Regions from separate parts of the Homo sapiens genome. Here region 2 is linked to region 1. The links come from fine-mapping of genetic effects on gene expression. A gene starts in region 1. The other region holds a variant in brackets. All regions are shown on one strand. Distances are from middle to middle.

Region 1 (3,018 bases):
CCACACTGCTGAGAGCTGCTCCCAGGGTAACCAAGCAAAGTCAACAGCAGCTAGGCCACCTGGGGACGGGACCCTGGAGTATCTATTCCTAGCTCTTCCTATCCCTGGAGTGAAAGAGAGGGCTTGTCTGCACCCCCATTGCCATCTCCCATTCCCTGAGGTAACCACAGCATGCCTCTTCTTTCCCCCATCTCCTTCACCTGACTTTGGCTACCAAAAGCAGCCTTTCCCAGGAGGGAGGACACCTGGCCCCCAGGGGGGAGCAAGGACAAAGCCAAGTAATTCCAGTATGGAAAATGTGACGTGACCCAGGAGTCTGTGTCCCAGGTCCTGGTCACCCTGCGAGCATTGCTGGGGAAGGTACTTTGGGTATGTCTGTCCAGCCTATCAGCCTAGCTCAGACTCTCCCCTTCTCCTCTTTCTCCCTCCCAACTCCAGTCCCCATGGGAGTGTTTGGGATCCGTGCACAGAGCTTGGACTGCAGACCCATTCTTTTCTCTCCCTCTGTCCTCAGTAGAATGCAGAGTGAAACCACTGGGTTCTCTCACTCTAGGGTTGAGAGTCTGTCTATGTTGAAGCAGATAATGCCCCCATCAGACACAGACACTCACTCTCGGCACTGGCATGCGCACGCGCTTGCACAGACACACACACACACACACGCACACACACACACACCCGGAGTCAACAGCATTCATGGCACATCTACCAGGCAGGCAGGCAGGCAGGCCGGTGCTGGCTAGGGCAGACACACACCCTCTGCCTGGGCTTTCTCTCTCACACCCAGCCCAAGGCTCCTCCCACTCCCAGCCACAGTTCCTCCTGCCCTCCTCTCCAGCCTCTCCCCTTCCAAATCCAGGCCTAAAGGTGGGGGACAACTGGCAGCCAGGGACCCAGGCGCCCTAACTCCTGGAGCTTACTCCAGGCAAGATGACAGGGAAGATGTCTGTGAGCCCTGGCCTCAGCACCCCCAGCAACAGCCACTAGTCAACCAGTTTGCTCCTGGGACCAAAGGACTGAGGTGGGCTAGGGGAAGGGAGAGGCTACTTGGATCTGCAGGTGAAGGCTGAGCAAAGAGTAAGGGCAGGAGCATCTATTCTAGATCTGGCATACTCCTGCCCGGCCAATCCAGCACTGGGAGGGAGTGGGTACCGCCCCATTGCCTACCCTGGGGAGGCGCCAGAGACTGGCCTCGCAAGAGTCACAGCCTGGCCACAGACAACTCAACTAGTCCCCCCAAAAGGCAGAAAGGAGAAAAGTGCCAGAGAGAAAAGGTTGGCATCACGGGGCCAGGACACTGACCTCCTCTGCCAGCCGTGCCCGGCCTCCCAGAGGATGGAGTCACGGAAGCCTAGCAAATGGGAAGGGCAGAGACCCAGGCGTCCCGGGCCGCCCCGCCCAGTCCCCCTCCCGCCCACCCATCCCTCCGCCCCCCAGCCCCAGGGCACAGAGGAGGGAGCCGGGCAGGGGCAGGCAGGGGAGGGAGGAGCGAGGGCGGGAGGGGGAGGAGGGAGTTGGGCAGGGAGGGAGGTTGGGGGGGGGGTGGGGAGGGAGAAAAAGAAAGAAAATATTTTCCGTGTCCCCGCCTGCAGAGTCAGTGTGCGGTTTGGGAGAAAATGTGTCGGATATTTTGGGGCGGTCACGTGGGCGGGCGGGCTCCGAGAGGCCCCGGGACAGTCCCAGCCTAGAGCCGTGCCCCCCCAGGAGCCCCCCAGTACGGCGAGCCCCGGACATTGCGACGCTCCATCCAAGAGACTGCCCGACGCCGGGACCTCGGGGCTCCGCCGCCTCCCTTCCCCCTCCCACTCCAGGTGAGTCAGGCGGGGAAGCAGGCTCGCCCGCCCCGTCGCCTGGGTCCTCCGGCGAGGCGGCTGGGGGAGGGGGCGCGGAGGAGCTGCACGGGCGAATGCCCTCCCGAGGCTGGCCAGGCTGGCCGCCGGGCTTGAGGGGGGCTTCTTGCCCCGACCCAGGCCAGTCCTGCTGTGGGAAGGGAATGGGGAAGATTTTAACAGGCTGAGGATGGGCTGGGTCATCTGCCCTTCATTTTGGTGCATAGCAGAGGACAGCATTTGGGGAAGTCTTCAGCCAGGGGGCATTCCTCCTTATATTTTTGTGCTGGGAATGTGAGAGAAGACAGGGTTTCCTCTCGCGGGGAAAGACTACCACCCCCTTACCCCCGGGCTCTGAGGGGTAGATTTGATGTTCCATGCTGGTCCAAGTTCCTCCCTCCCCAGTGGAATGGGACAGCTTGGACATCAGAAGGCAAGGAAAACGTCCAGAGGCAAGTGAGCCTGGCCCTCCGCGTCCAGGAGTTCCGAAGGACTGGTGCATAGGATAGGGATCTGTGAACTTTCCTTGAAGCGCTGGATTCCCTCCCACACGTTCCCAGCCCAGGTGCGAGCCTTGGCTCCCTCCAGCCAAGGTGGGGGGCACCTCTGGAGTATTCTTGAGGGAAGCCCAAATGGAACAAAGAAAGAGCAGGAAGACCGGGACAGGGACCCAGGAGTGCTGGTCCCAGAGTTCCACTGACGCTGCCTCTCTGTCTTTAGCAGCTACGGCCCAGTTCCCTCAACCTGACCCAGTATGTAGAAGCCAGTCTCTGCAGGCGGCCAGCGGGTAAGAAGATGCTTGGTTGTTAGTGGTGGTGGGGGCAGGGGAGCCTGAGTAGGAGGTCTTCAGGGCAAGAAACTGAGATGACTGTCCCGCTTTAGGGCTCTGGTCCTGGGCAGCTGGAATCCCAATCCTCAAGTCTGAGGCTTCTGCCCTTAGGGTCAGATGCTGAGTTGGGGTCAAGGACCATAGCCAGCATCTCATATCCTTGAGGCAAGTAGAGAGAAGACAGGGGAGTGGGGGTAGTGTGTGCAGGGAGCCTGGAGCTTGGGTATCCCATATAGACAGACATACACACACACACACACACACACACACACACACACACACACACACACGCACTGTGGCCTACAGCCTAGTAGGCAGCATGGGGCACGCCCCCCCACACCCCGGCACACCCCCACCCCT
Region 2 (2,500 bases), 240 kb before region 1:
TAAATTACATGAAGGGCAAGCCTATCGAAAGAACAAAACAAATTCCAGCTTTCAAAAACCTGATTCTTGCCACTGAAAACTGAAAACTTCTTGCCCTCCAAAATCCTAATTACAAATAAGAAAAACAAGCTGGGCATAGTGGCTCACGCCTGTAATCCCAGCACTTTGGGAGGCCGAGGCAGGTGGATGACAAGGTCAAAAGATCGAGGCCATCCTTGCCAACATGGTGAAACCCCGTCTATACTAAAAATACAAAAATTAGCTGGACGTGGTGGCACGTGCCTGTAAGTCCCAGCTACTTGGGAGGCTGAGGCAGGAGAATCACTTGAGCCCAGGAGGCAGAGGTTGCAGTGAGCCGAGATGGAGCCACTGCACTCCAGCCTGGTGACAGAGCAAGACTCCGTCTCAAAAAAAAAAAAAAGAAAGAAAAACAATTCTTGTAATCCCAGCACTTTGGGAGGCATATCACTTGAGGTCAGGAGTTGGAGACGAGCCTGACCAACATGAAACCCTATCTCTAAAAAAGAAAAAGACCTCTTTGCAAACAACCTTGGTGCAAAAGTTTACTACTACCATTTCATTCTCAACATTAAGGACCTAGTGTGCTTGGTGGGTGGACAAGAAAACAAATCTAGGAAAGGGAAAGCTTTTCTACACAAAGAGTAGTAGCACCTCAAGATATGAAGTCTTAAGGCAAAAGTCAGACTGCTACTGGGGAAATGGTATGTTCTTAGCTAGCACTAAATAACCATAGCATATATACATGGTCAGTACAAGCACAATACAGACCACATACTTAGGAATTCCTTTCCCCTGTACTAGATTCAGGAACTCATGTAAAACTTTTATGACAAAGAGATTAAACACTTATAAGAAAGGTAAATGATAACTAGACAACATTCCCTATTAAAAGAGACCTAAGGGCCTCAAGGCTAACAATGCTTTGAAATATTAGTAAGCAATTAAGGGTGTGACTTCAGCCCATGAGTTGAGAAAGCAAGTAATATAAATGACTGTAGGATCCCATTTGACTGTGAACAGTGTCCTAAAATTGAGAGTAGTAACACTACCTAGCTATGGATAAGGGAAATAAAACCCTCAGGAAGTCATTAAGGGATGAGATTGGGGGAGGAGTGAGATAGAAAACACACTTCACACTTCCGAAACATTCCAATACCTGTGCTTCCCACATTCCCACAAGCTCTGAATAAAACACACATGCAGTGTGAGAAAAATGGGTGTTTCCAGAATAAATGGTAATTGCTGCCTCCCAGAAACTGCCTTGCTGTCCTATTACTCCAATGTCCTTATTACAATTAAGGGTGCTTTGGACTCCAAATCAAATCAGTGAAAGAAATAGTAGTCTATATGCTATGTAGAACAAGAGAGACCCACATTTGATTTTGTGAGTGCTCTAGCCAGAGGACTCTTACTGAAGACAAGGACCACTCTTCCCTCTTACCAAACCATCAAGTTAAATGCGGGCAATCTGTGCTCCCCCCCCC[A/CA]CCAACCCCTTGAAAACTTACTGCAGTTTACTTTTTCTGCTACACTCTAAGAAAGTAGAGCTAGCAAAAAAAAAAAAAAACCTTTTGGCCATCTTTACCCATCGCCCATGTAATCCCATATTTAATACACTGCAGCTCTCCCCAACACACACATTACTGTGTTGGCATAAATAAGACAAAAGGTAGAGCAATCTTACCTGACATTGATTAGATATTGAGCCAGGCTAATGCTGGCAGCAGATCCAGTGATGGTAACCTGCCTATCAGTAGATCCTTCCACTGGGTTCGCAATTTTGATCTGCGCCCCAGACATCTGACGGATCTCATTGATTTTGGCGCCTTGACGCCCGATTATGCAGCCAATCAACTTAAGGGAGAAAGAAAAACAAGGCACACCGAATTAGAGTTGCATGGCTAGGTCTAAGAATCCCACCCCCCCACCCCAAATCCTACGACTGTGGCCAGGCTGGAGTGCAGTGGCCTGATCTTGGCTCACTGTGCAACCTCAGCCTCCTGGATTTGAGCAATTCACCTGCCTCAGCAGGACTACAGGCGCATGCCACCATGCCCAGCCAATTTTTGTATTTTTAGTAGAGACGGGGTTTCACCATGTTGGCCAGGATGGTCTCAATCTCTTGACCTTGTGATCCACCCACCTTGGCCTCCCAAAGTGCTGGGATTACAGGTATAAGCCACCGAACCTGGCCCTTTAAAAAAAAAAAAAAAAACCGAGGGTCTCGCTATGTTGCTCAGGCTAGTCTCAAACTCCTTGGTTTAAGCCATTTTCGAATCTCAGCCTCTGTATCTCTGTGCTCCCTGTAACCTGGGATTACAGGTGTATACCGCCATGCCCAATTTCATCCTACACCCTTTACTCATACACTTTTGATCAAAAAACTCAACTCTTGACCCATTTTTCAGTCTGACCACCCATGGTGAGTGACAGCCAGTTCTGAGCCAACTCAGAACTGTCTTTTAGGTCCAAGAGACATAAT

The links. PIP is the estimated chance that this variant, and not a neighbour inherited with it, causes the effect. A credible set is the group of variants that fine-mapping cannot tell apart.
Region 2: its variant is the best candidate, but not a certain one, in a credible set for the expression of RARG in whole blood (INTERVAL, PIP 0.89).

Annotation. Positions count from the first base shown.
Region 1 is chr12:53,230,767-53,233,784 of GRCh38, reverse strand. It overlaps RARG (retinoic acid receptor gamma), which reads left to right and starts at 1,576. Exons shown (of 10, transcript NM_000966.6): 1 at 1,576-1,811; 2 at 2,550-2,616. RefSeq lists silencers at 1,391-1,440, 1,761-1,890.
Region 2 is chr12:53,471,010-53,473,509 of GRCh38, reverse strand. PCBP2 (poly(rC) binding protein 2) reads right to left here. Exons shown (of 15, transcript NM_031989.5): 14 at 1,703-1,872. Among named protein-coding and RNA genes, the nearest start is that of PCBP2-OT1, 7.8 kb to the right of the region's middle. The variant A/CA (reference allele first, on the strand shown) is at 1,506.